Regions from separate parts of the Homo sapiens genome. Here region 2 is linked to region 1. Evidence: fine-mapped expression QTL. A gene starts in region 1. The other region holds a variant in brackets. All regions are shown on one strand. Distances are from middle to middle.

Evidence for each region.
Region 2: its variant is fine-mapped to the expression of RAI14 in cerebellum (GTEx, PIP 0.91).

What each region holds. Positions count from the first base shown.
Region 1 is chr5:34,653,688-34,659,060 of GRCh38, reverse strand. RAI14 (retinoic acid induced 14) reads right to left here and starts at 2,733. Exons shown (of 18, transcript NM_015577.3): 1 at 2,586-2,733. RAI14-DT (RAI14 divergent transcript) reads left to right here and starts at 2,888. Exons shown (of 3, transcript NR_183264.1): 1 at 2,888-3,068. RefSeq lists a silencer at 2,726-2,775.
Region 2 is chr5:34,601,802-34,607,174 of GRCh38, reverse strand. No RefSeq gene overlaps it. Among named protein-coding and RNA genes, the nearest start is that of RAI14-DT, 52 kb to the left of the region's middle. The variant G/A (reference allele first, on the strand shown) is at 2,644.

The sequences.
Region 1 (5,373 bases):
GTGGATACAGTGTAGTTCCAAACATGCTTGAGAACTGTGTGCGCTAACTTCACATTAGAGGTTACCTGAGGATGGAGGCAAAGGAGTAGGAATAGATCAAATATTTAAGTTATAGTTTATTTTTCCGGGGGGGGAGAGGTATGGATCAAATATGAAAATATTAGCAACTATTAAACCTAGGAAGTAGAAGACAAAATGGCTTACTATACTCTGTTTTTATGTATGTTAGAAATATTTCATACTTATTTATTTATTTATTTATTTGAGACAGAGTCTTGCTCTGTCGCCAGGTTGGAGTGCAGTGGCGCAATCCCAGCTCACTGCAACCTCCACCTCCCGGGTTCAAGCGATTCTCCTGCCTCAGCCTCTCAAGTAGCTGGGATTACAAGTGCGTGCCACCACGCCCAGCTAATTTTTATTTTTTGTATTTTTAGTAGAGACGGGGTTTCACTGTGTTGGCCAGGATGGTCTCGATCTCCTGACCTCATGATCCGCCTGCCTCGGCCTCCCAAAGTGCTGGGATTACAGGCATAAGCACCATGCCTGGCCCTTATTTTTATTTTTAAAGGATGAAAAAAAAGGAAAGAAGGAAGGGAGGGAGGGGGTGGAGGAAGGAGAGGCAAAAGTTGTCCACTGCATTCTATTAATTCCAAGGCCCAGTTGTTCTTAACCTCCAAATCTGCTTCTTCACTTTTAAAGCCTAGGTGATAGTACGTGTACCTGCCTAGAACATGCTTTGAAAACTAGCAGACTGGAGAGAGAATTTCACTGTCAGGTTCACTACTGGTGGGCGGGACACTACATCATTCCCCTACGGAATCCCTAGGGGGCTCAGCATCCTTTCTGTCTCTTCAATTCAGATAACAGTAATAAGATTTTCCAGCAGGGTTATAATCACACCACCACCACCACCATCTCCAAAAAGCCATAAAACAATAAATTCATTACTGAAGCATCTCAGTGAATGGAGATGAAAACTGTGCAACAGCCCAGCACGGGATAGCTCTCCCAATCTCTGTTAGACAAGCACTGGCTAAAATATAAGAACTGGATCAATCTCCTCACATAAAATCAACTGTCTTACAAACCCAAGGGGGAAAAAAATCACACTTGTTAGGCATCATTAAGAAAAGATTATCAGATTATATACATCAGTAATAAAATTCCGAGCCACAGGGCGAACAGGGACCTGCAGGCTGGGGACAGAGCAGCCAAAATCCAGCCTCCCTGTGATTCCCGACCTCTTCTCCAACTCTGTGCAAAGCCCGAGGAGGTGAGACTCTCTTCGCTAAGGCGAGCTTCGGCTATGTCCTAGTGATGGACAGTTCCTCTCTGCCAGGCCCCTGCAGCCTTGAGACCACATTCCCCAGAGATCCGGCAACGTTTCCCCATCCCAGGCAGCTGGGCATTCTCCTCTCCCGGAAGGAAGACGGAATCCCACCCCGATCATGCGTGAGCTGCGGCGAAGAGAAGCCGCTGGTCCCGAGGCGAGGGGCCTCGAGTCCGCAGATTCCCCTCAACATTTCTGGGAGTAAAGTTGGGCTTAGCTGGGCTCCTGGCAAATAAAGAGGAGCCTGGAAAGACAGCCATGCTCAGGCCCCCGTGAGGCCACTTCGGACCCCTCCACGCTGTGCTGGGCTGCATCTGCCTTAATTCCCCGTCTGTTGCTTCTCCAGGCTCTGAGCCCCCTCCACAAAAGGGGGATGCGAAACTCAAAGGAGTTAGGATGTCAACCCTGCAAACCGCAGAAACTAAACCGACACCAACCTGCCCAAGAAGGCAGCGAAGGTGGTTGAGGACGACACCCCACCCCCCACCCCCCACCAGGCAGGGGTCGCGGGAGATGGCGGGCGCCTTTCTGGTGGCTCCACGTCCTCCTTACTCCCGAAGTCCCGGCGGCCCCGAGTCTGCCCCAACTCCAGCATCCGTTCTCCCCGAGCTGCGGCGGGGAAAACAAGGTAGGGGGCAGGGGCAGGCCCAGAGGGGTCTCGCCCCCGCCCTTGGGCCGGCCGAGGGGCTCCCTGGAGTCAGAGGAGGAACAATAGCGGACCCCGCGTCCTGGGAGCCACCCGGAGTCTCCCGCTCGCACCTCCCTCCCCACCTCCTCCAAGTTCAGCCGGGAGGCGGATTGGGCTCAGCAGCACCGACGCGGGGGCAGCGAGGCGCCGCGCGGGGCGAAACAGGTGGGACCCGGCGCAGACTCCAGGGTGCATCTCCGGGTCTGCTCATTCATTCCCACCCGCGCTCCCTCCGCCGCGGCCCCTGCCCCGCGCCCCGCCCCAGCCGGCCTGCGAGTCGCGGAGGACCCGGGAAGAACCCTTCTCCTAACTTGGCCGGGTCTTCCCGCTCTACCCTCATCTCCACCTTCCTCTCCTTCCTCTTGTCCCCAGATCTGCTCTCCGCAGACAGTGGGCTGCCGGCGGTGGACCAGGGAGAGGTGGCGGGACCCCGGCTGCAGCCCGCTCAGCCGCTCCGCCCGGGCGCCGTCCCCAGCGCCTCCCGCGCCCGAGCTCCAGACACAAAGGCGGGGACACGAGCCCGGGACCCCGCGCCGGGAGCCTCCCAACTCCGTGCCGCGCACTCACCCCATCGAGGCGGCGGCGGCGCTCCCCGGACCCAGCTGGCTGCTCCACCCCGCCCGCCGCTTCCCCAGGAAAACGCGGCCGCCGGGCTCGCTTCCTGCTCGGCTTCCTGCGCCGCAGTCCCTCCTCCTCCCCCGCTGCGGGGGTCAGTGGGCGCCGAGCTCCCGGGCTAGGCCGGCGGGGCGGGGGCAGCGGCAGCACCACCACGTGGCCGCCGGGCGCCGGCCCCCGCCGACCTGGATCCAGTGGGAGCGGGAAGGGAGGCGCTAACCATTCCCCTCCCATTCCACCCCTCGCGGCCCCAAATTCCGCGAGTCAGGTGACCCGGCCCCGGGCTCTGGCCGGGACCTGCGGGGGGTGCTCTCCGCCCTCCAGCCCCCGGCGCATCTCCCCGGCCCGCGCGTCCCGGCTGTTCGTGGCTTGCTTTTAGTCTCCAGGGATCGTGGGACCCTTCTCCGCGGATCTGTTTCATCCTCTTAACCTGAAGTTAGTGGAAGCCCCCCACGCTCTGACCCCTGGGTTTAGGACGGATGAGATCCCAGATACTGTTTATTTCTGATTAACTTCCAAAGTCGTTTGTGGTAGTGGCGAGTGTTTCAAAGTCACGGATCCAAGCCCCTTCTGACCAGAATCTAAAAGGTTGTTTTCCAAAATCATTGAACAGAAAGTAAAGTAGAATGTGCTCACGTTCTCCGGACTGAACCAATTGGTTGAAGTGACTGTTTTCTAGCACTCATTGGGTGGCAAGGCAAGACTACCACCGTTCAGTGTTGTTCTGCTCAGGAGTTAGAAAGGAGAAACCTACAGCCTGAACTGACAGGCGAGATTGCGCATGGGAACGCCTTCAAAATAGTGTGTGAGAAGCCACGGGGTACAGGCTCACTGCCCCAGGTCCCCGACAGCTTCTCTCCCTATCCCAGCCCACTAAGGCCCGACCTTTCAATTACGATGGACTCCACCATTAATTCCAAGGATTTCAAAGCTCTCTATCTACCCACTCATCTAATTTGGGCTGGCTTTTCCATGCATTCTAGTCATGCTAACCAGCTGTGACTTCAGTTCTGTTCACCTAAGCTCCTCCCTTCTCCTCGTTAGCTCTGCCTCCTTTGCTCAGGGAAGAAAGCTTTCTAGAATAAATAACGTATTGAGTTCTTTCTGGGATCTACTGTAAGTCAATTGAACTTAAGAGGGAAAAAAGGTCGATTCCAACAAAATTGAAATTCACCCTAACAGCTCAGTTTATAACGTGTCAGCTACATACTAATATTTATATGGCAGATATTACCTGTTCCCTCCCCCCGCCCCATCCCCCTTTCCTTCCTCCCTCTCCCTACTAGGGAAGAGCCTATCTCCCCTTTAACAGTTGAACTTGACAAACAAGCATCAAAAGCCTTGTAACTAGGTGCAGGGTCTTCACTTCCTACAGCAAAAGTTCCTTAGCCAAGTGAGGAACAGCTAAAGCAAGATGTACACTCCTCTTCCTGTCCTTTATCCCTCTCAAACAAAGTCACACTGTAAAAGAAACATGAACTGACCAACATTCTTTTGGTTTAATGCTGGCAATTTCTACAATAGTGTTTCATCGTGATTCTTGTTAATGACATATTGTAGGGTATTTAAGGGGAACATTACTGCCTGTGAGTTTTCTGCTCTATTTTTGCAGGTCAGTCTGGTTCAAGTAGGGGCAGCTGGGAGGATGGGATTTGGAGCATGGTACAGGTAGATGATGCTGTCTTGGAAATTTGACATGTGTGTATTCTGTAGGAACAGTTGACATTTTGAAGGAGTTAAAATATTAGACAACATTAAACAATGATTGTCTAAGGCAGGCACATCTGACTTTGATTCACAGAGGTCCTGTCCCTCTTCTTTTTTCTCTGTCCCAGCCACCTCCAAAGAGCCTACCAGCCTATCACCTCTTAGATTCCCATAGGTGGTTTGTATATGATTCTCCTTAGTTTACACTCCCACCCTCTAAAGTCAGCAAGTCTAACTCTGGATGAGGGATCGTTGTGAAAGTATTCTTATTTTTTTGGGCTGTGCCAAGATCCTTTTCCAGATCCCCACTTTTGAAACTCAAAGCAACTTTGTAGTCTGTAGACTGAGCATGGCAGCTAAGTTCTGCCAACTGCAGGGGGATTAGTGGGGAAGTAAGAGGTTCAATAGCATCTTCTTATTGGTTGTGTTGCCCAGGCGTTTTAGAAATGCTAATTGGGTTCATTGGATACATTGAATACCACCCTTTGATGAGAACTAGGCCCAGGTGAAAGGGGTTGAGTTAAAGAAGCAAAAATAAAATGACCAGCTAACCTGTGTAAAGTAGTAAAACCTTTTGGGAGGAGCAGTATGTTGCATTCCTTTATCCAAATATCAAGGTAACAGCAGTGTAATATGTAGTGCCATGAGCACCAAGAGCAAGGAGACTGGGTTTCCTGACCCATTTCTTTTGCTTACTTGCCATTTGACCTTCACCAAGGGTTTTAACTTCCCCTGTTCCCCCTTTCCTCATTAGTAGAAGGGAACATCAAAGTACATGACCTCCAAGATCTTTCTTTTCTTTTGTTTTCTTTTTTCTCTCTTTCCTTCTTTTCCTTTTTTTCCTTCCTTCCTTCCTTCCTTCCTTTCTCTCTCTCTCTCTGTCTTCTTTCTATCTTTGTCTCACTTTGGTGCCCAGGCAGGAGTGCAGTGGCACAATCATGGCTCACTGCAGCCTCAACCTCCAAGCTGAAGCTTTCCTCCCACCTCAGCCCCCAGGTCCCACCTCACTAGCTGGGACTACAGGTGTGGGCCA
Region 2 (5,373 bases), 52 kb after region 1:
GTTACCTAAGAAAACGCCATGAATCAAATAGCATTCCTGACTTTTAAAGAATCATAGATTCAGCATGAAGAAGGAATGTTAGAAATCATTTAGCACAAATCCCACTTCAAGAGAGCAGTCTTGGGCTGGGTGCGGTGGCTCACGCCTGTAATCCCAGTACTTTGGGAGGCTGAGGAGGGCGGATAGTGAGGTCAGGAGATCGAGACCATCCTGGCTAACATGCTGAAACCCCATCTCTACTAAAAATACAAAAAATTAGCCGGGCGTGGTGGCGGGCGCCTGTAGTCCCAAGCTACTCGGGAGGCTGAGGCAGGAGAATGGCATGAACCTGGGAGGTGGAGCTTGTAGTGAGCCAAGATTGTGCCACTGCACTCCAGCCTGGGCGACAGAGCCAGACTCTGTCTCAAAAAAAAAAAAAAAAAAAAAAAAAAAAAAAAAAAAAAAAAAAAAAAAAAGAGAGAGAGAGAGAGAGCAGTCCTTTCTAGAGCCTTTTTTTTTTTTTTTTTTTTGAGATGGAGTCTCGCTCTGTCGCCCAGGCTGGAGTGCAATAGTGCAATCTCGGCTCAATACAACCTCCTTCTGGGGCATTATTGACAGATTAGCAGCTGGCTTGCATTTGAATGCTCCAGGGCCAGAGGGCAATGTAATTTACCAGGAAGCCCATTTGGGTCTCAGATGGCTATATTTGTTTTTCATGATTAGGCATAATTTAGCTTTTTGGAGACTTCATCTTAGTAAGTGCTCAGTAAAATTACCTACTATTATTGTTACGTTATTGCTTTATTTTTTCTTCATTAAAAACAGCTAATGATAGTTGTAAGGGTTTCCATTTCTTCTTTTCTCAAGGCTAACCTCCCTGGTTGCTTAATACCATGACTGGGTTCCCAGATCCCTTATCGTCTCCTCTCTTGCCACGTGGCTCACCAGCCAGGAGAGCATGATCAGTGCTTCTTGTGATCCCGACCCAATTCATTCCAGAAAAAGGCCCCTTTCATCCCTCTGCCCATGCTTATCAGAGGCAAATGCCCAAAGCAGGAGGCTACAGTTGTGAATCACATCTAGTGTAGCATTCATTCACTGAAAGAGAGCTGGGGTAGGAAATGCGATATTAAATAAGTGATCAGGGACACACCAAGCACATATTGTTAAAGAATTAGTAATATTAAATAGAAATTGTTGGAGAAAAAAAACCTTTCTCTCTGTCTTATTTATTCACACATTGCTCATCAAAAAGCAAAACAAAATAACCTTTATATCTTGGAAGCAAAGCCATTTCTAACTCAAATAAATAAACTGTTAAAGAATAAGACACTCACGGAAGATCAAAAAATAGACTGTGGGTCAGGCAAGGTGGCTCATGCCTGTAATCCCAGTACTTTGGGAGGCCAACATGGGCAGATTGCTTGAGCCCAGGAGTTTGAGACCAGCCTGGGCAACATGGTGAAACCCCGTCTCTACAAAAAATACAAAAACTAGCCATGCATGGTGGCGGGCACCTCCCAGCTACTTGGGAGGCTGAGGTGGGAGGATCACTTGAGCCCAGGATGTTGAGGCTACAATGAGCCATGATCGCACCACTGCACTCCAGACTGGATGATAGAGTGAGACCCTGTTTCCAAAAAAAAAAAAAAAAAAAAAAATACATAGACCATGGGTTTTTACTGCACATATTAAATTTTTAAATTCTTCTTGGATGATCTAGGGGAGAAAACAGAGCACAATAATCTGATTCTCCTTTTTTGATGCAAGCAGTACAATAATGAAACCAATGAGAAATTAGAAAGCTTTTCTAAATTTAAAAAAGTTATCTTCAGTTTAGAAACAGCTTCTGAATAATATTGATACATGCCCTTGTGAACTGACACACATAAAGACTATCCCAGTTAGTAACCCACCATTTGTATGATATAGCTTTCAAGTTATTTTCTTCATTTTGGTGATGAGTGTGCACTGAGTGATCCATGTTCTTTTATCCAATTCCTCTTATTCTCAATGATACATATTTGCAAAATGGCTAGGGAGGGAAAGGGTAGTTACATCTTCTGCATAGCAACTGAGATCTGGTTGCTAGTTGAGTAAAAGATGCTGGCTGTGTTCAAAAGAGGCAACTAAACTTGGGGTGGGGCCATGGGGGTGGGAAGAGAAGACGTAAGCTGGAGAAGACTGCCACTCTCAGTGGCTCAGCCCAGGCAAGCTGATATTTATTAACAGGGCTCTTGATTGCAGGTGCAAAGATTGGTTTTACCAGCAGATCCTAGAATAACAATTATAAGGGAAGCAAGATGGCGAATGGTTGCAGAAGACATTATTGTTTTCCATTTCTCCCTTTCCTTTTTCATCATAGGACCCTGATTTTGTGCAGGACCATGCCCCTACCCCGTCTTCCTTAAAGCAACCCTGTGCTCTTAGGGAGGTTGGCCCAGACCCAGGGGATAAATTGTGATTAGCCCAAGCCAATCATGCTGTCTTTTTCTCTTGCTGGTGATTAGTTTGGGCATGGGCACATTAACAGATCTGCTCAGGGAGACAAGAGAAGTGCATTCTGGAATCTTTTGAAAGGCTTGTAAAGAGAGATACACAGAAAAAGATGGTTTCTTATTCTCCTGGGCCTTCTCATGTCTGGATGTGGTACCTGGAACTGCA[G/A]CAGTCATTTTAAAACATGAGGGTGCTAGCCTGAGGATAAAACCCATATGTTAAGTAAGGGTAGCTGGGCAGAGATGGCAACACCTGGGGCCTGAGGATTTAACTGAATCACTAAATTAACCAACCACAGAATTTCCTGTCATACACGGAACAGTGCCCCCCCATCCCCATTCATATGTTGAAGTCCTAATCCCCAATACCTTAAAACATGACTGTATTTGCAGATAGGGCCTCTACAGAGGTAATTAAGGTCAGATGAAGTCATCTGGGTGAGCCCTAATCTGATCTGACTTGTCTCCTAATAAGAAGAGGAGCTTAGGACACATGGAGAGAGACACCAGGGATGCACATGGCCAGAGAAGGTGGCTTCCACAAGCCAAGGGGACAGGCCTTAGGAGGAAATAACCTGCCAACACCGTGATCTCAGACTTCTAGCCTCCAGAACTGTGAAAAAATTAACTTCCACTGTTTGAGCCACCCTGTCTATGGTATTTTGTAATCACAGCCCTAGCAAACTGATTCGTATCCCTACCTTGGGACTTCTTCATATTGTATATGAGGCCTTACGACTTTTTTGTTTGTTTTAGGTCACTTGAGTGGAGTTTTCTGTTTAATTCTAACAGGGTTGTTAAAAACACAAAAAAGATATTGTAGCCGTATTATTCTATTATAAATGAAAGCAAGTTCTGAGGCTAGGAGATATAGCTACAATATCTAACACTAAAGATCAGAATACCAGGGAGGATAATCCCAAGTACCATTATCATAAACACAAGGGGTAGCAGGAGAAAGCTGAAAATGTTGGAGGAGGGGTACCATTTACAATGTTTTTTCTAAACACCAAGGTAGAGCCTTGCTTTCTCCTCTCCTAATCCACCCATAGCTGGACCTGATACGGAGCCTCATGAGGATATGGTTGTGGTCAAGAACCACAGTGGAGCTGAGTGTCCTAGGCATGGGCTTAGCCCAGCGACTGTGACCTCAGCTAACCAATCCAGTTAACTAGCAACAGATGAAGAAACAAATTTTGACCAGCTTCAGGGAATGAGAATTTATAATGCCTTGTATATTAGCTAGAGTAGGATAGCATGGGACCCACCTCATTTTATAGGCTTCCCCTTACTAATGTAGGCCATCCCAGGTCCTAACTTCAAAGCAGGAAGTTGGGTAACCACTGAATAAAGAGAAATCCACCATCAACATATACGTAGCCTATATATGATTATATATATATATGTATATTTATAATCAAACAGCTCAGGGTTGGCTCCAAGCTATGAAATAAGAAATGTCCCTTTCATGACTAAATATGAAGTTTTTTTTTGAACCAAGTGTATTTTTCCAGAGAATAGTGGTCAGATTGACCATAGTTACTTATTTCTTTCCCTTCTTCTTTATTTTCTTAGACAGGGTCTCTCTTTGTTGCCCAGGCTGGAGTACAGTGATGTGCTCTCGGCTCACTGCAGCTTCTGCCTCCCAGGTTCAAGCGATTCTTCTCCTGCCTCAGTCTCCCAAGTAGCTGAGATTACAGGTGCCCGCCACCACATCTGGCTATTTTTCTTTGTATTTTTAGTAGAGATGGGGTTTTGCCATGTTGGCCAGGGTGGTCTCGAACTTCTGGCCTCAAGTGATCCACCTGCCTTGACCTCCCAAAGTGCTGGGATTACAAGCATGAGCCACTGCACCCAGCCATAGCCACATATTTCAAGCTTTCAATGCTTAGATTCCGACAGCGCCTCTTTGGTCTTCCACCTCCATGATCTTTTCCCTTCTAACCCATTTTGCTCCCTGTTGAAGCTTCCTAAGATCACTTTCATTATTTCCTCCCCCACCTCCAAAATATTCATCTGGGCCTAAAACTATTGGAGACACCCTTGAGTGCATCCGCCCAGCCTGCAGTTCCACATTCTATCTCTGAGAGCTGCTCTGTCCTGGAGATGGGCCCAGAAGCCATGTTTATTTCATATAACATCACTTCTGTTGTTGCACTAGGAAGAGACAATCAAATTCTCTCTCCTGGAAATTTGGAATTGGAAGCCAAAGAAGCCAGTAGCCTCTGCAGATCATTTGAACTGAGGATATAGGAACTTGGGAGTTGTGGAGTGGATTGTCTTACACCATATTCATGGGCAACAGAGAAATCTATTGTGCAGAGAAGAAAGGATGAAGCAAATATGCACAGAAGCCAAAGTGAGAAAGTATGTGGTGGAGGGATGGGTGGAATTGAGGGATTAAGACTAGGAAGCTTGCATCCCTAGTCCCTGAGAGCTTTTCATACTGGGTTCCAAGGCTTGGGGAGACCTAGCTGCCCATTCTGTCCTGGAGTTCCTCCAGATCTTTTTATTTATTTATTTGTTTGTTTGCTTTCAAAATTTTATTTGCTTTTTTTTTTTTCCTTTTCTGAGATGGGGTCTTGCCATGTTGTCCAGGCTGGTCTTGAACTCCTGAACTCAAGCCATCCTCCCACTTTGGCCTCCCAAAATGCTGGGATTATAGGCATGAGCCACCACACCATGCCTGTTTGTTGGCTCTTCATATGGCAAGCCTGTCCAACCTGCGGCCCGTAGGCTGCATGCAGCCCAGGACAGCTTTGAATGTGGCCCAACACAAATTCATAAACTTTCCTAAAACATTTCCTAAAACATGAGATTTTTTTGCAGTTTTATTTTTTAGCTCATCAACTATTGTTAGTGTTAGCATATTTTATGTGTAGGCCAAGACAGTTCTTCT